3 linked regions of the Homo sapiens genome follow. The protein of the gene in region 1 purifies or fractionates together with the protein of each later gene. This does not show direct contact. Each region holds a gene or a part of one and is shown in the gene's direction. Other genes may lie near its edges. The genes, in order: PTPN7, PMPCA and PMPCB.

The links.
Region 2: the proteins of PTPN7 (region 1) and PMPCA purify together in Homo sapiens (affinity purification with mass spectrometry, with the first as the bait; 2 studies listed by BioGRID). This does not show direct contact.
Region 3: the proteins of PTPN7 (region 1) and PMPCB purify together in Homo sapiens (affinity purification with mass spectrometry, with the first as the bait; 2 studies listed by BioGRID). This does not show direct contact.

The regions. Positions count from the first base shown.
Region 1 is NC_000001.11:202,157,584-202,165,374, reverse strand, and holds the start of PTPN7 (tyrosine-protein phosphatase non-receptor type 7), read left to right. Parts: upstream 1-4,830; intron 4,831-5,385; exon of another isoform or gene 5,386-5,855; coding exon of another isoform or gene 5,856-5,972; coding exon 5,973-6,094; intron 6,095-7,073; coding exon 7,074-7,257; intron 7,258-7,551; coding exon 7,552-7,636; intron 7,637-7,791. UniProt on the Homo sapiens protein: Protein phosphatase that acts preferentially on tyrosine-phosphorylated MAPK1. Plays a role in the regulation of T and B-lymphocyte development and signal transduction.
Region 2 is NC_000009.12:136,406,078-136,413,721, forward strand, and holds the start of PMPCA (mitochondrial-processing peptidase subunit alpha isoform 1 precursor), read left to right. Parts: upstream 1-4,580; 5' UTR 4,581-4,591; coding exon 4,592-4,662; intron 4,663-5,919; coding exon 5,920-6,122; intron 6,123-6,412; coding exon 6,413-6,492; intron 6,493-6,732; coding exon 6,733-6,815; intron 6,816-7,644. Other genes in the region: ENTR1 (endosome-associated-trafficking regulator 1), read right to left, coding at 1,068-1,484, 1,749-1,861, 3,797-4,162, 4,251-4,320. UniProt on the Homo sapiens protein: Substrate recognition and binding subunit of the essential mitochondrial processing protease (MPP), which cleaves the mitochondrial sequence off newly imported precursors proteins.
Region 3 is NC_000007.14:103,292,728-103,300,482, forward strand, and holds the start of PMPCB (mitochondrial-processing peptidase subunit beta isoform 1 precursor), read left to right. Parts: upstream 1-4,707; 5' UTR 4,708-4,732; coding exon 4,733-4,831; intron 4,832-5,840; coding exon 5,841-5,981; intron 5,982-6,715; coding exon 6,716-6,802; intron 6,803-7,450; coding exon 7,451-7,580; intron 7,581-7,755. UniProt on the Homo sapiens protein: Catalytic subunit of the essential mitochondrial processing protease (MPP), which cleaves the mitochondrial sequence off newly imported precursors proteins. Preferentially, cleaves after an arginine at position P2.

The DNA.
Region 1 (7,791 bases):
GCCAGCCCCCAGCGCAGCCTAGGGGACCGGGAGACAGGGCCCCTAGAGGTTCTGATAAATAAGCTGGGCATGGTGGCTCATGCCTGTAATCTCAGGACTTTGGGAGGCCAAGGTGGGCGGATCACCAGGTCAGGAGATCAAGACCATCCTGGCCAAAATGGTGAAACCTCGTCTCTACTAAAAATACAAAAAATTCGCTGGGTGTGGCGGCACATGCCTGTAATCCCAGCTACTCGGGAGGCTGAGGCAGGAGAATCACTAGAACCAGGGAGTTAGAGGTTGCAGTGAGCTGAGATGGCACCACTGCACTCCAGCCTGGTGACAGAGTGAGACTCCGTTTCAAAAAAAATAAAATAAATAAGCAGCAGCCTCCCCAGCCCAAACGTCTCCATTCAGCAAAAGAAAAGGTACCACGAGGGCTGTATCTCCTCCCCAGCAACCACCCCCACAGACAAACCCACATCCTCTCCCTAGAGAACCCCTGGGGTTCCCCCCCGCTACCCTGAGGTCTCAGGGCACCTTACTGATTCCTTCTGGAGAGAGCCAGCCAGGAGGCAGAGGAGAGAGCAAGGGGCAGGTCTGGGAGTGCTGGCTTCCAAATGTGAACTGGCCTGGCCTACAGCTGTCCCAGGCAGCGCTCTTCCGGCCCCTCCCTGCTCTCCCACAGCCTGAAGCCTGGCCTTGGGCAGCCCCCACACTGGAGGAAGATAATCACCGGGCAGCAGAGGGGCAGGGTGGCTCAGGACAGCCAAGTCGCCCACTCCCCCTGCTGCCTATACTATGGGGAAGGTGGCCAGGGAGTGGGGGAAGGCCTAGGTCCCCCTGACCAGGCCATGGGAGAGCAGGGGAGGGGCTGGTCATGTGTGGATTGACACTGTGCATGTGCATTTGTGCAAACGTGGGCCATGAGGGTGTACACACCTGTCTGGATGGATGTATGAGTGGGTGTCCGGGGACAACACAGAGCGGGAGGGAGACGGGAGCCCCTGGGAAGAAAAGGCCACATTGTAGAATAGATGTCCATTTGGCTGGCTCTGGGCTTGGGAGAGAGGGAGGGACTCTTCTATCCTAAAACCTTCCTGCCAGGGTCCTGAGTTCCAGCATCGGGCAAAGAACCAGGCACTTTCCTGGACCTCCTGGCAGGCTGGCCCTGGCATCCCAGTGCCAAGCAGGGCTGGATTACTGGTCCTCTCAGCCAGGGGTAAAGGGTATGGGATGTTCCCCTTCATCCAAAAGGTAGCAGGAGGTCCCTAGCTGGCCCGGCACAGGGTTGAAGCTTTGAGACAGGGGTGCAGTTGTCACTCTGGTCAGCCTGGACTTATCCCATGCCCTTAACAGCACTTCCCTGCCCCACTCACCCTGTCTCCCCTGCTGTCTCCCTGCTTCCTGTGGGATGAGGCTTCCCAGATCCAGTTCTTGGTGTTTCTGTCTCCCCGACACAAACAGGAACAAGCCAGGGCCTACAAAGTTGGGGCAGAACAAGCCAGCTCAGGCTGGCCTAGGGTTTTGGGGGTGGGAAGGATGGAGGAACAGCCACCCGAGATCCTAGTGCTTCTCCAGAGAGGAGCCGAGGAGGGCAGCTAGGAAGGGGGCAGAGCAGCTGGAGTGTGCAGGACCCAGCAGTCCTGGCCCCAGGCAGCTGACTCTCTCCCCAGGATCCTCCCCTTGGATTGTTAAAAGGTGGCAGCCTTTGCCTCTGGGGGCCAACTGCTCCCCAGCAAGGAGCTCCCTACTCCCTAGGGGCTGGCAAAGAGCAACGACTTCTGGGAATTCCAGATGTAATGTCCGCCTTTCCCCGGGCCTGGGCTAGGGAGGGGGGCGCTTCTGACACTTGGGGCAGGGAGCTGCGGCTCACAGCCCTGGAACTGGGAATCACTAGAGGGGAAAACAAGAGAGTCAAGACGTGTGTGGCCAGAGCTTGGGAGGGCTGAGGGCACCCACCACAGCCTCAGATGGGACAAGGCTGACTCTCAAGATGCATCATGCCCTGCACCAGTCCCTCCCCAGCCTGGCCTGGTGGCTTGGGACACCCCTCTTTGTCCTCCCTGGAGTGGACTCTGTCCCACCCGGGATGCTGGGAGACCCCTGGGAGTGACTCCTTCCTGCACTTCCTCAGTGCTCGGCTGGAAGTGCCCCGGCAGCCCGGGTTCAGGGAGAAAGTCAGCAGTGAGGAGGAAGAGGGAGGCTGGTGAGAGGTGAGACCCGGCAGCCATGACCTCCTCACCCTGTGCTGCTCCCAGACCCACTTCCCCAGCCAGCTCCTCCCAGCTCCTCGGTCCTCTGGCTGCTGACTCCCAACCTCTCCTCCGTGAGCAAAGCACACCATGGGCTGACAAGGGAGGTGCTATGATCATCCCCCAGTGGAGGGAGGAAGCTGAGGAGGAGCCTGAGACTCAGCAATTTGCCCAAGGTCACACAGTTAATAAGCTACGTTTAGACTCATTATGCATAGATCTTTCTGATTTCCAACTATTACTATACTTTCTCTGGAGTCGAGGGTGGCTAGAACCTAAATCTCAACCCAGGAACACAAATCGATTCGAGTGATGGAAGTTTGAGAGCTGCTGTGACCTTTTGGCCCCAGGGGTGGGAAGGTTCTGGAGGGGAGAGGGAGTCACGCCCAGGAGCCTTCCAACAGCCCGGATGGGACAGAGTCCACTCCAGAGAGGGCAGAGAGGGGCGTCCCAAGTCACCAGGCCAGGCTGGGGAGGGGGAGGTGCAGGGCGATGACGCATGTCTTGTGCCATCTGAGGTTGCAGTTGGCATCCTCAGCCCTCATGAGCTCTGGCCACACACCTCCATGGATGTCCAGGTATCCCTAAGCACAGGGGAAGAAGGAGTGGGCAGGAGCCAAGGAGTGACTGTCCCCTCTACCCCACATCCACCCAGAGGGAACAGGGGATCTTTGAGAGGTCTTGCCTAATGCTCAGCCACTACCCCCACCCCCAACCCCAACTATCTTCCCCATCGCCTGGCTCCCAGCTTCCTTGCTGTGAAGCTCAGCTTCCAACTGTCCAGCCACTGCTAGGCCTCAGTCTGTGGGGGAAAGGGGTGGGCTCACAGCCAACAGGGCTCAGACCCTGGAAACTTGGGGGGACCAGGCAGACCTGTGTGGGGAGGGCTTTGCCGCTTCCTCCTCCCACCCCTGTGGTGTCCTAGCTTCCTGTTCTTGATAACAATCAGCATAGGCTCAGAGCCGGGCCCTCTTTCCAACCCCCACCTGCCCCCTCCTGTGTCCCCAGGGCCCCCACTACCCACCAGTGGAAACACTGACTGGTGTGGGGGGTGAGGCAGAGGCCAGTCTCCAGGTCACTGCTCGCAAGCATGTTAGGGATTCCCAGGTTCCTGCTTCCCTCCAGTCTGTCCTGAGCACGGGAACCAACCCCTTTCCCAGCCCTAATCGGCCTCCTCCTCAGGGAAACCCACCCACTCCGGAGAGGAACGCAGGCTGCAGGGAAGGAGGTGCCAGGATCAGCTGGCCATGGAGGGGCTCAAAAAAGAGCCAGCCCCTGTCCCCACTGCCAAGAGCAAGGGCGGGTGCTGGGAGGCCTTCTGAGCCTCTGGGGGCTGTTCTTGTTCTTCGTCTCAACCCTCCTCCTCAAGGGGCCAGCAGAAGGCCAGCCCCCTCCCGACCACCCCCTCCGGCATGCCTACCCCCTGTGCCTAGGGTACCTCATTTCTTTTTTGCTGTCACCATTTGACAGCTGAATCAGGGAAGTGGGAGGAAGAAAGAGGACGTGGATTGTGCATGTTGGGGGCCGGGAAGGGAAGGGCGTTTGAAATGTTACAAGGTAAAAGGAGGCGTGCAGCGAGCATGAACCGGCTGGGCTGCTGGCCCGCAAGGAGCCTGCCAAGGTCAGGCAGGGGCAGTGGGCAGAGGAGTCTTGGACTTGGGGGCCACCCTTCAGGTCCCAGGCATCCAGGCACCCCAGCAGCGAAGAGGACATGGGAGTCCCCTGGTGTGAGGGCCAGAGACTGTCCACTGTCTGTAAGTCTTCTAAGTAGATGTCAGGGTTCTGGGAGGAGGCCTGCAGGGGGCTGAGGGCCCAGGGGAAGCCCCTCGGACTCCCTCCCACAAGTGGACTCTGCTATCTGCTTCCTGCTGGGCTGGCCTACACTCAGGCCGTGGGCTGTGGAGAGCTGGGCCGTGGCACAGGCGTGGAGACGACCTTTTTGGCCTGGCCCCGGCCCTTTCCTTCACATTGTGAGGCATGGATTCTTGCTTCTTCTTTTTCCCCACCCCGAGTCTGTGCCACATCTGCTCTGGGAAGATGTGGTCTGTGCTTGGCCATGAATTCCCAAGGCTTGAAGCAGCAAGGGCTTTGAGGGAGAGGGCCTTGAGGGAGAGGGCCTTGAGGGAGAGGGCTGTGGGGCAGAAGCAGAGAAGGAGAAATAAGCCTCCGGCCAAGGTCAGGTTGAGCAGGAGAGCCTTGGGTTCTTTGTGGGACAGCACAGAGCTGGGGGTCAGGCGAGCTGTGCCCAGCAAGTAGGCAGCGGCTGGATGTGACAAAGACCCAGAGGAGAAACACAGAAGAGGGGAGAGGGTCTGGAAGCTGGGGAAAGCAGGATGGTCGGGAAGGCCTGGCCCCTCACCCATTCCCAGGGAACGGGGCCTTGGGCCCCAGAAGGGCACAGGCGGGAGGCAGCCGACCCCTGGTGGCAGCGGCAGCAGGCACAGGAGGGCAGAATGCAGCTGGGGTGTGCGTGGGTGGCAGCAAGGAGGGGCGGAGGGAGGAAGCTGGCTTCCTGGAGCCTTCTCAGCCCTCAAAGACAGACCGACAGACAGACAGACAGCTGGCAAGAGGCAGCCTGGGGGCCACAGCTGCTTCAGTAAGTATCTGAAGGGGGGACTGGGAGTCCTGTGGCCCCGGGGGGTGCGAACTCCGGGGATATAAGAGGGCATCTCTAGGAGGGAGTGCGGGAGGGCGAGTGGGGCGCCACAGTGCCTGGCTGGGGTATGGGTGCTCACAGACCTGATGTCCCCAAGACGGGGGTGAGCAGGGAAGCCACAGGGAGCTACAAGGAGAGCAGAGGCTGAAGGGACCTTTTCTGCTACCAGAGACCCTCGCTCTACCACTCACACCTGTGCCAGGCCCATTCTGTCCCCTCACCTCCGTCCCTGCTGCCTTGGTGATTCAACACCCCCGCCACCTCGCCCACTGTGACCCTGGCTCTGGGAGATAGGGACTGCCCCCAAGAGGAGATGGTCCCACCACCTCCATGCCTCCTGTCTTGCCCCCAGCTGTCGCCTCACCATGCGCTGTCGTTCAAGGGCTTGGTGAGGCCATTTCCTGTGACGGTTACAGAGGCGGGAGACGGGGGGATGGGCAGGAGGAGGAAGGAAACACCTCCAGCCTACCTCCCTGGACAGAGACCCCAGAAGCCAGAAACAGACCTGGGAGTGGAACAGCAGCAGTTAGGAGAGGACCCTGCTGGGGTCCAGGAGCCCGCCTGCCTGGCTGCCCAACCAGCTCCAACACTGCTGGAGGCCTCCATTCTCTGTTCAGGGGAAGGCCCACTGGTTAGCTCAGAGATGGCTTCTGCGTGCTTTCTCCCTTCCGTCCTAGAGAACACATATTTTCTGTTTCCTCCCTTGCCTTCTCCCACTTGGACCTGCTCAGAGCCCTGTGTACTCTGGTGTGTGGCCTCTCTCCCCTCTCTCTTTTCCTCCTTCTGGATTCTTTCCTATCTTCATCCACAATCTCTACCCTTTATCTTGCCGTTACTCTACCCCGAGACTGCCTTCTGCCCTGGGTCCCACCAAATAGATCCTGTCCTTCCCTTAGTGAAAATGAGGCCACCTCTTGGGGAACAGAAGACGCCCCAGTGAAAACAGAGTGCAAACCTGGCCTGGCATGGGAGCCTCCTTCTGGCCAATCAGGCAGGCCAGAGAACAGCAGCGGAGGGCCCTGTCTTTCAGGCAGACCTCATGGCTGAGTGAGCCTCCCCTGGGCCCAGCACCCCACCTCAGCATGGTCCAAGCCCATGGGGGGCGCTCCAGAGCACAGCCGTTGACCTTGTCTTTGGGGGCAGCCATGACCCAGCCTCCGCCTGAAAAAACGCCAGCCAAGAAGCATGTGCGACTGCAGGAGAGGTGAGATCTTCCCTGGGGGAGGGGTCTTCCGAGCCCTGAGCCCCCATTCCGCTCCTCCCTTCCTTCCATCTGCCCCTCCAGCTCTGACAGCAGGGTCCAGAGGGCCCTCAGTTGTTGACTCCAATTTGGAAAGGAAACCAGTAGTGCTCATTTGCATGTCTTTTGCATGTCTGGAGCACAGAGTTTCATATCAACCATGAGCCTGCTCCCTAAATTCCAGGCAAGGCCCACAGCCTTCTTGGTGCTGGATGCATGTCGGAGCCACAGGGCCTGGCTGGGAGTGGGAAGAGGCAGGCAGCTGGAAGGAGCAGTTGAGTTCAAGGCTGCCCTGTTCTGGCTGACAAAGGGAGAGGGCTGAGCCAGGCATGGTAGCTCATGCCCAAAATCCCAGCACTTTGGGAGGCTGAGGTGAGAGGATCTCCTGAGTCCAGGAATTAGAGACCGGCCTAGGCAATATAGTGAGACCTCCTCTCTCTCAAAAAAAAAAAAAAAAAGAGGGCACACAGCAGGGGCCCAAACCCTAAATTTACTGGGCTACCAGGTTAAAGGAAAGATAAAGAGCGGCCCCCTCAGAGGTGCCTTATAACAGTAATACTTGTAAGAAAAGCAAATATGGTCAGGCACAGTGGCTCATGCCTATAATCCCAGCACTTTGGGAAGCCAAGGCAGAAGGATCACTTGAGCCCAGGAGTTCAAAACCAGCCTGAGCAACAGAACAAGACACTGTCTCTCCAAAAAAAAAAAAAACTTAAATTAGCCAGGTGTGGTAGCATGTACCTGTGGTCCCAGTTACTCTGGAGGCTGAGGTGGGAGGATTGCTTCAGCCCAGGAGTTTGAGGCTGCTGTGAGCCATAATAGTGCCATCACACTCCAGACCTGGGCAACAGAGAGAGACCCTATCTCTAAAAGAAAAGATAAAAAGAAAAGAAAAGCAAATATGATTGGGTGCTCACTAGGCAGTGGTGGGCTATGCCTGCAGGCGGGGCTCCAATGTGGCTCTGATGCTGGACGTTCGGTCCCTGGGGGCCGTAGAACCCATCTGCTCTGTGAACACACCCCGGGAGGTCACCCTACACTTTCTGCGCACTGCTGGACACCCCCTTACCCGCTGGGCCCTTCAGCGCCAGCCACCCAGCCCCAAGCAACTGGAAGAAGAATTCTTGGTAAGAAATTGGGGTCCCCTCTGAATCGCTCTGCCCTCTGTATCAGAGGCAGCCAGCTGGAACCATTCTCTCACGGGCACCCTGGGCAAGTCTCCCCTTTGGGCCCCTTAGGAAAGAGAACTTCAGGGCTGAGGGAGGGGCTGCCCCCAGGCTTCCCCTTCTGCCCCCACCCCATCTAGGCCTACATACTATTGTCAAGAAGGAATGGCCAGAGTCCAGCTGTTCTAGAAAAAGGTAGAAGGAGAGAAAAGGAGGCTAGGAGTCAGCTGCTCACCCATTTCCTCCCCCTGCCAGAAGATCCCTTCAAACTTTGTCAGCCCCGAAGACCTGGACATCCCTGGCCACGCCTCCAAGGACCGATACAAGACCATCTTGCCAAGTAAGAACTGCTGCTGGGATGAAGGGAGTCGGGTACAGTCCCTGGGGCTAGAGAACTTCAGAGGACAAAGTACACAGTTTCAGCCAGGGAAGATCAACCTTGCTTGGCACATCTTCTCTCAGCAGAGAAAGGGGGAAGAAGGAGCAAGAATCACA
Region 2 (7,644 bases), on another chromosome or scaffold:
TGCTGGGTCAGTGCAGCATCCACCTGCAGCCACTACAGAGGGAGACCACAGACGGAGGCAGGCACTTTTCAAAGACCTGTGGTCACAGATGCCAGTTAATTTTACTCAGAGGCCGGGGGCAGTGGCTCGCGCCTGTAATCCCAGCACTTTGGGAGGCCGAGGTGGGCGGATCACAAGGTCAGGAGTTTGAGACCAGCCTGGCCAACACGGTGAAACCCCCGTCTCTACTAAAAATACAAAAATTAGCCAGCAGTGGTGGCGGGCACCTGTAGTCCTAACTACTCGGGTGGCTGAAGCAGGAGAATCACTTGAACTCGGGAGGCGGAGGTTGCAGTGAGCCGAGATCGTGCCACTCCACTCCAGCATGAGCAACAGAGTGAGACACTGTCTCAGGAAGAAAATAATTTTTCTTTTTTTTGAAACAGAGTTTCGCCCGTCGCCTAGGCTGGAGTACAGTGGCGTGACCTCGGCTCACCGCAACCTCCGCCTCCCGGGTTCAAGCGATTCTCCTGCCTCAGCCTCCCAAGTAGCTGGGACTACAGGCGCCTGCCGCCACGCCCAGCTAATTTTTGTATTTTCAGTAGAGACAGGGTTTCACCATGTTGGCCAGGCTGGTCTCAAACTGCTGACCTCAGGTGATCCACCCACCTCGGCCTCCCAAAGTGCTGAGATTACAGGCGTGAGCCACGGCGCCCAGCTAAAAAATTTTTTTTTTTATTCAGAGCTTATAACCTTTTAGGTGATTATAATTTTTTAAAAATTTTCCTCCTCTTGGAATACTTAGCAAGCTGGCGACTGCAGCCTGCCTTTACTGAGGGTACAGCCCTGTAAGTGCCCAACTGCATCCAATTCACAGCTTCTAGCTCACCAGTCCTCTTTAGCCGGTTCTATTCCCACGTGTAACCAGAAGCAAAGTCAAAGGGAAAGTGGATAGCAGGCTGTCACGCAAATCGCCTTGTCCTGGAAATCAAACCAGGCCACCCAAGAGGTAGGATGGCTCCAGGTTCTCCCCGGGAGAAGCCGCTCGGACAGGCGCTGTGCCAGAGGGCGCCGTGAGGCTCACTTACTGCGTCGTAACTTATCTGCAGCGTCCGCAGGTGCCTGTCTCCCAGAGACTCTCCATGAACCGCAAAGTCTGCGCTAGGACTCCCTGCCGGAGAGGCCGGAGACACGCGAGAATCAGTGTCACTCAACGCCCACGAGGGCAGAGACTCAGGCCCTGCCAGCTCCGACGGGGTGGAGAAAAAGGAAAGGTATGTGCTGCAGGGCGACGTGCCGGCAGGGACCCTCTCGGGGTGAGTCTGCTCGATGGCGGACGGCAGGTAGGCCCCACTCCATCCGGTGTCCTCATCCTCCTCCTCATCCAGGAGGTCACCAGCCCCTGTCGGATCCTCGAAAAATGGCTGCTGATACTCCAGGCCATACCCGCCGGTTTGGGAGGGTGGGGAGTTGTGGTCAAGTCCCAGGGAATGCCTCGAGGCTTCCTAAAAAAAAAAAAAAAAAAAAAACAATGGAGGCCATGCTTCTGACTCGGAGCGCATCTTCCTTTCTGTGTTCTGCCTCGCAACAAGAAGAAAGGCCCAATCTCTCTACCGGAAGGAGCCCAGCAGCTTCTGAGCCCAGAGCTGCTCCCCAGCACTGACGCCTGCCTGCTCTGCCACACTCATGCACGATTCCTCCAAAGGAGGCTGCAGAGGCCGGAACAGAAACGTCCCACAGAGCCATCGCCCACAGTGCCGTGGATTTACCTTTGCATAAATTCTGCTGGCCGGATCCTCTTTCGAGAGGCCGAGGTTCTTGGTCTTCAGAAACTCTCTAAAAGAGAATGGATTTGCCTCTTCCAGATCTTCAAATCTGTCATCTGAAATAACAGACATCACAAATGCATAAAGTCTACTGAAGAGCGTTGAAAGGGAACCTTCCTGTTCACCTGTCTTTCCAGAGCATGGCCACATGTGAGATCGGGCAGCCACGCTTGTCATTCTACCATGACTCAGGCAGCACTAGGAAGTGTGAAGGTGGCTGAAGGTGGGCAGTGACACAGACGTGCGTCTGCATTTGCAATCTTCTCCTTCCACCCCTCGGCCCCTGCTCCCACACTGTGCTGCTCACTAAAGCTCCCCTGGGGAGCTTTAAAACGACCCAAGCCACTCCACTGCACACACCCAGCTCCCTGGTGTGAGGTCAACCTGTGCTAGGAGCTCTCAAAGCTCCTCAGGTGGCCAGGTGTGGTGGCTCACGCCTGTACCCCAGCACTGTGGGAGGTCAAGGCGGGCGGATCACGAGGTCAGGAGACTGAGACCATCCTGGCTAACACGGTGAAACCTCATCTCTACTAAAAATACAAAAAATTAGCCAGGCGTGGTGGTGAGCGCCTGTAGTCCCAGCTACTCGGGAGGCTGAGGCAGGAGAATGGCGTGAACCTGGGAGGTGGAGCTTGCAGTGAGCCGAGATCGTGCCACTGTACTCCAGCCTGGGCGACAGAGCGAGACTCTGTCTCAAAAAACAACAACAACAACCAGCTCCTCAGGTGCTGCAACGCTGGGGACCCAGTGCCCCCTGACCCTCTTCCCGACTTTCCTACCTAGGTAGCCTAAATAACGCCCACTTTTCCCTTCTCCCTCTTGCCACCGCCTTCCCACCCTCCGGGGACTTAAGCAGCCACACTCGACCCTCCCAGCTGTGAGCCCCATGTAAAGCTGGCTCCTGTGGCCCCAGCCCCCCAGGTGGGGCTTCCCCGCTCCCTGATGTCACCTCGCTGCTACTCTAGGATCAAGACTGAACCCTTGAAATCCCACCCCCACCTGCTCTTTTGGGCTCCAGCTACACCACATAGCCAGTCACATTGACAGTCCCACCAGACACGTGCCTGGCACTGTGTTGGATGGAGACAAGAAGAAAAGGTTGCTGAACTACTCTACCTCCAAAATGTGTCCCGTGGGCTCCTGACGGGCTCTGCTTAGAACATTTCCCCTTTCCATAGCCAAAATCTGCAAAGAAACAATGTCACCCACCATGCTGGCAGGAAGTCTTTATGACCTCACATTTGGTTTTTTTCTTTTGCACATGGAGTCTCCACTGCAGTGGTTCTCACAGTCTAGAGAACTTTTTTTTTTTTTTTGAGACGGAGTCTTGCTCTGTCGCCCAAGCTGGAGTGCAGTGGTGCGATCTCGGCTCCCTGCAAGCTCCGCCTCCTGGGTTCACGCCATTCTCCTGCCTCATCCTCCCGAGTAGCTGGGACTACAGGCACCTGCCACCACGCCCGGCTAATTTTTTTGTATTTTTTGTAGAGACGGGTTTTCACCCTGTTAGCCAGGATGGTCTCAATCTCCTGACCTCATGATCCGCCTGCCTCGGCCTCCCAAAGTGCTGGGATTACAGGCGTAAGCCACTGCGCCCGGTCAGCCGAGAAAACTTTAAAAAAAACACAAGCTCCCAGACTTGTGACCCTGGAGATGGCCTGACTTGCAGACTGGCCCTGGTGTCCGTGGTCTGAAAGCGGCTCCTCAGCAGATTTTGAAGCCCAGCCGGGGCAAGCGCGTCCTCTTGTCTTGTGACAACCCCCGAATGTCCTCAGATCCTGGCATAACCACACAAACACTCCTGCACACCCCGGGCACCCAGCAGCACTTCTGCTTGGGTAGAACGAGGACGAACCAGATCTGGCCACTGCCCGGCTGTGGAGGCAGATGGAATGCTCCAGCTCGGTTTCCAATCACTGCCCACTAGGTGAAGGCACCCCGACTCCAGCCCCACGAGGAAAGCGGGCGGGCTCCTGTGCTCCCCGGGCACTAACCATCCTGTACTGGAACTGTCTGTCTTGGGGGAGGTCTCCCCGCAACCAGACTGTGAGCTCCTAGCAGGGGACTCCGCCTTTGAATTCCGAGTGCCTGGCACGCAGTGAGCGCTCTGCACATTGATGGGTCAATGGACGAGCTCGTGCTGCAGCGGAGGTGCCACACGTGGCGCGGGAACTGGAAGCGTCCCCGGGGCCGGCGCCCTCGTCTCTCACCTGTGTCTCCCACGGAAGCCAGCACCGGGCTGGGCACATAGCACATAAAGGCCGGCCGAATGCCGAAGAAGGGGGAGTCCAGGTCCCTGCCATGGGGGCGCTCACAATTTAGCTGGGGGAGACAAGACCGGCGCTCATAGAACGCTGGAGCTGGAAGCAACGACAACAGCGACTTTACTGCGTGCCGGGGCGGCCGCCGCCCACCTGGACCGCTGGACTCGGCCCCTGCCCCGCTCACCGTCGGGAATGGCGAGGCTCCGGGCTCGGGACAGCGGGGTGGCGCCCGGGCGGCGCTGGTAGCCCGACATCGCCGCCGGCCCGGCGGGGCACGACCTGCCTAGCCCGGCAGCGGCGGCTCCATGGCCCCGGCTCCGCCCGTGCCGCGGCCCGCGTCGCCCGCCCCCGTCGCCCGCCCCCGTCGCCCGCCGCTCGGCCGCCCCCGCGCCTCCGAGCCTCTCGCCGCTGCTTCCGCTCCGAGCACCGAAAGCGCGTGCCTGAACGCCTTGGGCCGTCGGCGAGGGGGAGGGGAAGCCGTGGGCGGAAGCGGAAGTGACGACTGAAGCGGGGCGGAGACGCAAGATGGCGGCTGTGGTGCTGGCGGCGACGCGGTTGCTGCGGGGCTCGGGTTCTTGGGGCTGTTCGCGGCTGAGGTGAGCCAAAGGCGAACCAGGCTTCGGCCTGGGGCGGGGGCGGCTCGAGTCTTTCTGGACGCTCCGTCTTCGGTTTCTACAGGTGACATGGCGCCCGTGGGACGGGCTCGCACTTCGGGACACTGGTGTCCCCGAGGCGACGGGGGCCCTGCCTTGCTTTGCGCCTCGAGCCCGGGGACGCAGTCCCATCTGTCTCTCCTCTCCCCGGCTGCTGGGTCCTCTCCCCCCCTCACTTCCCGGGTCGACGGGCCTTCTCCGAGGCCATGCCTCATATTTGCCCCCGCGCTTCACCTACCGCGTGCTCCTTCAGGAGGCTGAGCCGGTGGGGGCCCAGCTCTGTTAGACCCGCAGGGTTCTGACACCAGGGTCCAGGCTCTCGGTTGCTGCGGTCTGTCCGTTGATCTCTGACGTTTAAGAACCCTTTCCGTACCCACCGCTCCTCCCACCCAAGTGACCGGGCCTGCCTTTCCCCACGCTGGAACTTTGTTCCGACAGCACAGGCGTCGCCCCTCCCCACACAACGAGCGCCGTTTCAGGGGTGCGGAGGTGCTGCCTCCAGGAGATGGATACAGGCTGGAGCGTAAACAAAATATCGGCAGTCGCGTAAATGCTTTGGAGTAAACAAGCAGCCTTTCATGATAGAAAATAGCAGGAAAGACTAGACTGGTGAGGGATAGTCCTCCATCAGGGTGACATTTAAGGGAAGAGCTGAAGAATGAAAGAAGGGGTAGGCATGGGCAAAGGGCAAGCCCTGGAACGGTGAAGAAGCTTTGGGGTTGATGAGTCAAATGTGTTCCAGGAATTGACAAGAATCAGTGTGACCAGGACCTATGGGAGTGTGGGGGTTCAAGAGATGAGTTTGGAGAGGGAGACAGAGGCCAAGTCACACCCCGCCTTCGGACCAGGTTAATAAGGGATATGGCTTTTATCCAAGACTTCGGTGGTGCTGTTGGAGGGCAGAGCTGTTAAGTGCTTTATGTGTACAAACTGCACTTAGAGTGAGTTACTGTTAATAAGCCCTGTTTTTACAGAGATAGCAACTAAGACCCAAAGGACGGAACCAGCTTGCTCCAGGTCCCGTGGCTGAGCCTTTGTTGTCAGCCTCTGCTTTGTCTTCCAAAGTCTGTAGAAATAAGTCCTGTAGAAAGGCAGATGCTCACTTTTAACCCAGACAAAACATAACTAACCGCACCTAACAGGTCATCACAGGTTTGTTGTCTCAAGCCTGTTGTAACTGGGCCGCTTTCTCTGTTTTAGGTTTGGACCTCCTGCGTACAGACGGTTTAGTAGTGGTGGTGCCTATCCCAACATCCCCCTCTCTTCTCCCTTACCTGGAGTACCCAAGCCTGTTTTTGCTACAGTTGATGGACAGGAAAAGTTTGAAACCAAAGTAACCACATTGGATAATGGGCTTCGCGTGGCATCTCAGAATAAGTTTGGACAGTTTTGTACAGTAGGAAGTAAGTACTGTTGTGTTGTCGTGGGTGGTCCCGCAGTTTTAACATGCACATGCTTTAGTTGACTGTTAGTTGTAATTAGCATGCCAATTATGAATTGTACCCTGAGTGGAAACAAAGTGTACGATTTCATAAATGTTGAGCTACACATATACCTGTGAAACCATCAGCACAATCACCCTCATGTAATTAAATCTGATTATCATGTCATATTGACATCTTAAAATGTTTCTCTTGATTAAATCTTATTTTGAATATCTGATGTAACCTGTCAATTTTCTTTTTACTACTAGTTCTTATCAATTCAGGATCGAGATATGAAGCGAAATACCTTAGTGGAATTGCTCACTTTTTGGAAAAATTGGCATTTTCGGTCAGTACCCAGTTTTGTAATTTTTTAGACTATACTTTTGAAGGATGTTTGAGATTTTTCTTGTCTATAATGGTTATTTTAATAAATTATCAAGTTGCTAAGTTAATGTTAATAAAAGACTTTTAAGTTAAAAGATAATTTTTGTATGTGTGTTAAAAGCAAAAGTAGATTTTAAAAAAAAATTGTGTTTCAGGGATAGCCTGGATTGCTTATTTAGGTTTCCTTATTTATTTTTACTAGTCTACTGCTCGATTTGACAGCAAAGATGAAATTCTGCTTACGTTGGAAAAGCATGGGGGTATCTGTGACTGCCAGACATCAAGGTACACCAGCTTTTGTGTACAAACTGACTTTGGGTCCTTGGGAACTGACGTTCTTGTCGTTGCTCAGATTCCCTCTGAGCCCCTCCCAGCGGGAGGTGTGGAGATTCACGGGGAGAAGGAGCCCTGTCCTGGATGGAGACTTGGGTGGATGGCGCTTACACAGAGAAGCACAGCCCCCAGGAGCTCAGTTGACCCCCGTCAGTTCCTCCAGGCTGTTGGCTGCATGCCAGGGATGTAGAGCAGGCCCTGTTCCCAGATAGAGCAGAGGGCCTTGCATACGTAATGGACCCCGTAGCCAAAGGCGGTAGGAGCCAGGAGGATGAGTGGCTGACTTGGTCTGGAGTTGGGAAAGGAATCATAGGAAATGCAGGGTTGGGCTGGTTCCAGAAGGAGTTTGCTAGACACACGGGGCACAAGGCATTCCAGACCAGGAGACAGCAGGGGCAAAAGGCACCGAGCCAGGGAGGTGCCGGCTGCTTGGTGGAGGGAGGGGGCAGTGTTGCCTCGAGCACAGTGCAGTGGTCTTTGCATGCCAGGTGTGGAGCTTGTTCAGAAAGCACTGGGCAATGTGAGATGGGTGAATATAGATCACAGATTTTTAAAATTGTTGATTTAAGTTTGAATGCTAAAAAAATTACACATAAAAGACACATTAAATGCTAAGAATTAAAGTTAGCTTGGAGGTAACATATTCATGTTCTAAAACAAGGCCTCTTAATACCCCCTGACTCCCAGCTGCCCCTGCCAGGTTCCTGCCTGGTGTGTTTGATTCTCCGACTCTTGCCTCGAATCTCACTCATCCCAGATGAACTCCTTTCTCTGGCCAGGT
Region 3 (7,755 bases), on another chromosome or scaffold:
GTTTTGGAAATGTAACCTCATTTTTTTTAATTAAACTTTTTATTTTGAGATAATTGTAGGTCCACCTGTAGCTGTAAGAAATAATACAGAGAGATCCCATATACTTTTCATCCAGTTTGCCCCAACAATAACATCTTGCATGAATAGAAACAATATCACAACCAGGAAATTGACGTCGATACGATACACTGAACTGATTCATATTTTACCAGTTTTATGTGCGTTCATTTGTGTGTATTTAATGCTATGCAATTTTACATGTGTACATTCGTGTAACTAGCAGCACAGTTGAAATAGAGAATGGTCCCATTGCTTCAAGAACCTCTCATGCCACGCTTTCATAGCCATACTCATCTCCCTCTTGTCCCTGCGCTTCTCCCCTCCCCAGTCCAACCCTTGGGGAATCACGAGTCTATTCTCCATCTCTATAATTCTGTCATTTCAGGAATGTTATATAAATGGAATCATATAGCATATAACCTTTTGGTATTGTCATAATTCCCTTGAGGCCCATTCAAGTTGTTGCATTTATCAGTAGTTCATTCCTTTTGAGAGCTGAGTAGTATTCCGTGGTACGAATGTACCACAGTGTGTTTAACCATTCACCTGTTGAAGGACATTTGCATTATTTCCAATTATTGGCTATCATGAGTAAAGCTGCTATGAATATATGTGTAGATGTTTTTGTGTAAACTTCAGTTTTCATCTTTCTGGGATAAATGCCCAGGAGTTCAATTACTGGGTTGTATAATAAGTGGCTGTACTACTCTGGAGTTTTATATTCCCACTAGTAATGTATGAGTGATCTTGTTTTTCTATATCCTTGCCAGCATGTGGTGTTATTGCTGTTTTTCACTTGAGCCATTCTGCTACATGTGTAGCGATAGCTCATCATTTTAATTTGCATTTTGTAATGATTGATGATATTGGACATCTTTTCATGTGCTTATCTGCCATCTGTATTTCTCCTTCAGTGAAATGTCTGTTCATGTCTTTTGCCCATTTTTTTTCACTGTTTTTGAGAGGGTTTTTTTGCATAATTCAGACACAGGTCCTTTGCTGAATATGTGGTTTGCAAATATTTTCTCCCAGTCTGTAGCTTGTCTTTTCATCCTCTTAACAGCATCTTTTTTAGAGCAAAAGCTTTTAATCTTGTTTTTTTTGTTTGTTTGTTTGTTTTGAGATGGAGTTTTCCTCTGTCACCAGGTTGGAGTGCAGTGGCACGATCTCAGCTAACTGCAACCTCTGCCTCTCAGGTTCAAGCGATTCTTTTGCCTCAGCCTCTCAATACCTGGGACTACAGGTGCGTGCCACCATGCCCAGCTAATTTTTGTATTTTTAGTAGAGAAGGGGTTTCACCATGTTGGCCAGGATGGTCTCGATCTCTTGATCTCAGGTGATCTGCCTGTCTTGGCCTCCCAAAGTGTTGGGATTACAGGCGTGAGCCACCGCGCCTGGCTTTAATCTTGTTTTAAGCATTATATTTTTGATATCAGGTCTAAAAACTCCTTGTCTATTCCTATATCCCAAATATTTTATCCTACGTGTTTTTCTAAAAGTTTTATAGTTTTATGTCACATATTTGCATCCATGATTTATTTTGAGTTAATTTTTGTATAAAGTGTGAGGTTTAGGTTCATTGGGAGTTGGGGAGCGGGGAGCCGTGGATATGAACATCTAATTGTTCCAGCAGCATTTGTTGAAATGCTATTCTTCATCTATTGAATTGCCTCTGCACGTTTGCTAAAAATTAGTAGGGCATGTTTGCGTAGGCCTACTTGTGTCTTGAGATAATCACAAAAAAAGTAGAGGAAAATGACAAAGCTTTAAAAAGTTAGAGAGATGCTAATAAATATGAAGGACAGATAAAGTCATTCAGCATAAGGAGAGCTGCAGTCCTTGAAAAGATAACATACTGAATGGAATGCCAGAATATGTATTCAAAGAGACTTTCTCTAAAATGAAGGAAGAAGTGAAACTGCAGAATGAAAACATATTATGTTTTTGAAAATTTTGATAAAAATCACAACACAAAAATTACTCAACATTAAGATATAGCCTAGTTAAGTTACTGAACTTCAAGAATAATTTTTTAGGTTTTTAGGCAGATAAAACAGGTCACATTTAAGGGTGGTAAAAAAAGAAAAAATCTGGCTAGCCTCAGACTTCTCCAAAACATTTAACTCAAGAGCATAATGGAGTAATGTTTATAAAATTCTGAGAAAATGAAACTGTGACCCAACAATATTAAATCCAGACAAAAATGTCATTCAAGTATAAAGATAAAAGCAGACATCCTCAAACATGAAAGAATTAAAGGAATATGACATCCATGATTAAAATTTCCAAACAACAAAAATAGCAATGACTCTGCCAGTAAAATCCAGTCAGTGAAGAAATCATTTAAAATAGGCCAGGTGCAGTGGCTCACGCCTGTAATCCCAGCACTTTGGGAGGCTGAGGCGGGAGGATCACTTGAGGTCAGGAGTTCAAGACCAGCCTGGCCAAACTGGTGAAACCCCGTTTCTACTAAAAGTACAAGAAGTAGCCGGGTGTGGTGGTGGGCACCTGTAATCCCAGCTACTTGGGAGGCTGAGGCAAGGGAATTGCTAGAACCCCGGAGGCGGAGGTTGCAGTGAGCTGAGATTGCACCATTGCACTCCAGCCTGGGCAACAAGAGAGAAACTCCGTCTCAAAAAAAAAAAAAAGAAAAAAAGTTATGGATACTGTTGTGGGTGTAGGGCTATTTTGGGAGTAGTCAAATTCTTTGATTTCTTGGCTCTACTCTGGTGCACTTAATTTCTGTAGGCTTTATGTTCTAAGATATTGACTGTAAATAATGACTAATAAATTAATACCATGAAGTATATTAGAATTGAATACAAATTCTTGCTAAAACTTCCTAGGTGCTTCCTGTGATTATACCTACATGTTTTTGTATATATGTATGCATGTTTGTATTTATTTTTGGTTAACACACATTTGTTTTAGAAACATGAGAGAATAACCTTGGTCGTCCTTTATTACATTACATCATGAGTCTTGTGGACTGAACCTGCGAAGCATAGCAGCCGGGTAGGTGGAGGGAGATGAGTCTGGAAAGATAAATGGGAGTCAGATCATGAAGGGCCCCACCTGCCATGCTAAGGACCCTTTACTTTATTGTGACCAAGGGCTCCCTGATGGATTCTTCATAATGGGACTGCCGTAACAGTTTCATTTGTAAAAGATCCTATAGGTAGTAATGTGAAAAAACTGACAATGGGCCTGGAGTAGATTGAAGAGGCAGGAAAGGGGTGTATCAATTGAATGTGGAAGATGGAAAAAGAGAGGAGCTTCTGGGTGGTTTGGAGTTTTGGGCAAATGTAGGTATGATTGGCTGTTTGGCATTGCAAATATGGGAAGAGATTCAGGGGACACAGTGAATTCCCTTTTGGACAAGTTGATATTGAGTTTCCAATGGGGTATTCAAGTGTAGTTTCCTAGTAGTTGATGGTTAAGTGGGCTGGAGCTCAAGAGAAAGGCCTGGGTTGGGCAGACAGGTCTTGAAGTGGAGGGAAAAACCCAGAGGGAGAATGTTCAGTAGAAGAGGCTTAGAGTCCTGGCAAACACCAACTTTTAGGGCAAAATGTAGTGTTTCACAGCACAGTCTTTGGCGTTAACCTATTACTAGCAGGGTAACCTGGGGCAAGTTATTTGACTTCAGTGTCTTAATTGCAAAATAAGCACTATACCATCTACCTGAGTTAGAAAAGCATTTGCAATTTTTAGTTCCTTGAGAGATCTGTGGGCTGGGCGCAGTGGCTCACGCCTGTAATCCTAGCACTTTGGGAGGTGGAGGTGGGTGGATTACCTGAGGTTAGGAGTTCAAAACCAGCCTGACCAATATGGTGAAACCCCATCTCTACTAAAAATACAAAGTAGCCAGGCGTGGTGGCACATGCCTGTAATCCCAGCTACCTGGGAGGCTGAGGCAGGAGAATTGCTTGAACCCAGGAGGCAGAGGTTGCAGTGAGCTGAGATTGCACCACTGCACTCCAGCCTGGGCAACAAGAGTGAAACTCCATCTCAAAAACAAAAACAAAAACAAAAAACAGATCTGTGAATAAAGAGGAGTCCAAGAAGGTGCAGAGGGAACTATGAGGAGGTGGAGCTCTAGAATATATTGAGAAAAGAGAATTTCAAAGAAGCCAACAATGTCAAATCCTCCAACAGGACTGTAACATAAGTCTGTAAAGTGTCCAACTTTTAGCAATTAGTGACCTTACCAAGGGCAATTTCTATGGAATGAGATGAGCCATATTGTAGAGGTTCGAAGAGTGGATAGTGGTCAACACGGATACATCGTTTCCTCCCCTCACGGCATCTGTCTCTCCCACTAGACTTTTCCTTTAAAGGCAGTGACTTATGAATATTATTCCACTGTTTTCAATCAATTCCATCCACCAGTGAGATATATTGCATCAGGTTACCTTTCATTCCACCGCATTTGTGCCTTGCACTTAGTAGGCGATCGATAAAATAACTGATGATAAAGGGGCTTCTGCAGACTCCCCAATTCATTTGGTAAAGACCGCTCAGCATCATGGTCGGGCCCTGATTGCTTTCACAACCGCTTCGAGGAGTGTCATTCCCATCACGGCCACAAGGTGGAGCCCACCTCCCTGCTCTGGGACCTCAGGTCGCGACCCCGGAAGCACATCCTTCATCCTCTACCTTCCTTCTAGCAGAAATGGCGGCTGCGGCGGCTCGAGTGGTGTTGTCATCCGCGGCGCGGCGGCGGCTCTGGGGTTTCAGCGAGAGTCTTCTAATCCGAGGCGCTGCGGGACGGGTGAGCTTCCCTCCAGGCCGGTCCTGTCCTCGAGATCTCGCCAGACCCGGCGCAGCGCACCTGAGAGTCGGCGCCACAGATCCGAACAGTGGGTCGGGCAGGGCCTCCTCGACCCGGACCCGCCGGGCGCCAGGCGGCCTGGGGCTGCTGAACTGGCCGGGGGTGACTGGCTTGTGGCCACCCGCCAGGAGACCTGCTAGTGACGTGTGGGATGACCCTGGTTTTCGGCTCCTCCCGCCAGCTACTGAGGAGTGCATGTTTGACCACTAAAAACGTAGTGCTTGCAAATTGGGGAAAACTAAAAAGTGAAATGGGTACCGCTCCAGAGTTCTATTTTTGCCTAAGACTGAACTTCGTCCTCAGCTGGGCTTCCCGCGAACCTGGACATCAATGAAGTAAAATTTTTTATGTATTTGCATTTTTCTCATGAGAGAGCCTCTGACTTTAAGCAAAGGGATGTGAGACTTTTGTATAAGGGCAAAGAAAAACTGCTGAAAGGCGAATAGTTTCTGGCCGAAAAGCCAGTCATTTGCATTTTGAACATCGACCCATCTTCCTATCCTCTCTCTCTTTTTTTTTTTAACCATTTCCAAACCCTGTTGCTTTTCTTGAACAATGAAAACCCGAGTGTCAGTTTTGTCTTGTGTGTAGGTAGTTTTACATAGTTTCCCTCTCTTTTTTTTTTTCCTGCTTGTTTTCTCCATAATGAATATAAAACATTTCTAGGAGAGGTAGTGAAATAAAGTCAATTTCTCTCTGGGTAATGATAATAATTGCTCATCTTCCCTGAGGGAAGGGCATGTTTATAAACACGTTGCTGGCTTTAGGACAGTGGCTGGTGACAGATGTTTCTAGGCCAGGCAGAGATCTCAGTGGAACCAAAATTCAAGAAGAAAGATTCTTTTATAGAGACAGCCTATTTAAAATAGATTTGGTTTTAAAAGCAACATTTAATATCAGATTAGTAATGTGTTTTGCTTTGTCTCTTCCACTTCCTACCCCCAACCAGTCATTATATTTTGGAGAGAACAGATTAAGAAGTACACAGGCTGCTACCCAAGTTGTTCTGAATGTTCCTGAAACAAGAGTAACATGTTTAGAAAGTGGACTCAGAGTAGCTTCGGAAGACTCTGGGCTCTCAACATGCACAGTAAGTGACTCAGGCAACCTTCTCTAAGTGACCCTTCATTTAGCGTAGCAAATTGTTGATTTTAATCTTTAGCTTTTTCGTTGGCTGGTGGTTCAAAAAGGGTGACAGTTATTTTGCCTTGACAGATTTCCATGAGTTGTGAACCTTTTCTTCCAGTGGTACTTAGTTACAGGGTGCATATGTATCCTGTTGCATTGTCTGCATCTTGTTCTTGTAGCTTATTATTGATTATTTATTTTCAGTAGTATTGATAATAATGAAAGAAATATGTTTGCAGGGCTACTCTGCCAAGTGTTTTTACTGATGTCTTATTTGATAAAAAGCAATTGTTTGTAGTGGGCATCCTCACACCTGTTTTATAGTTAAGGAAGTGAGAGAAGTTAAATGGTTTTGTTCAGGTAACTCAGCTAATACATGACAGAGCCAGGATTTCAACCGAAGTTTTCTGACAGTCTCTGATGTTCTTGATACTACAGTTATTAATTGGCTGGATTAATGAGTTGGGCAAAGAATCCTCATTGAAGGTGGCAGGTAGATACTTGTAGCACCCAGCAGTATCCTGATCGAAATTTTTAAATCTCATAGTTCACAGGAATGAACTATCAATTCACTCAGGTCAAGAAAATCTTAGTGTTAAGACCAGAAAGCATTTGTCAGAAAAAGGAAGGAGACTGTTCCCCCCAACCTCAAATAAATAAAATGAATTTATTTAATTGTTCTTTGATTGCATTAAGGTTGGACTCTGGATTGATGCTGGAAGTAGATACGAAAATGAGAAGAACAATGGAACAGCACACTTTCTGGAGCATATGGCTTTCAAGGCAAGTTGTAAGACTTTACAAAAATGCACTCTCTTTAAGAGATAATAAGCACAAAGTCTCATTCTTTAGAGGCAGGGAGAGCTCTTTCAGTAGTATAACATGTTTTATGTTTATTTTTCCAGGACAGTATCTAAAATAAGTAGTGATAATTGCTTTGTAAAGCTGAAATGAAAACTTTCTCTTGGGATGCAGGAGTTATCTGAACGTATACCATTTCTGAAGCCTGATGTACCTTATTTTTTTTTATTTAATTTTTTTTGAGATAGGATCTGGCTCTGTTGCCTAGGCTGGAGTGCGGTGACGCAATCTGCTTACTGCAACCTCCGCCTCCTAGGCTCAAGCCATCCTCCCACATTTACTTCTGGAGTAGCTGGGAGTATCTATATATATATATATGTTTGTTTGTTTTTTCATAGAGATAGGGTTTTGCCATGTTGGCCTCGATCTCTTGGGCTCAATCTGCCTGCCTCAGCTTCTCAAAGTGCTGGGGTTACAGGTGTGAGCCATCGTACCATACCTGATGTACTTTAGAAACCAAATTTGACCCTGCATGAAACTAACTTATGTCCTCCATATTCATTATCTGAAGTAGAATAGATGAAGTATAAAGGGAGTTTGCATAATTTGTTTTTCCTCTTTTATTTCAAGGGCACCAAGAAGAGATCCCAGTTAGATCTGGAACTTGAGATTGAAAATATGGGTGCTCATCTCAATGCCTATACCTCCAGAGAGCAGACTGTATACTATGCCAAAGCATTCTCTAAAGACTTGCCAAGAGGTACTGTTATTATTTATACAGCAGATAATGTAATTTTCATGAGAATCAGGAATTATTTAGTACTATTTTTATTATGTCTGTTGTAAAAGAGTAAGTTCCAGAAATGTGAAAAAGCGAAACTGAATTCTGGGTGAGGGTACAGCTGATCTTATTTTTTTTCTAAATATGACAAATA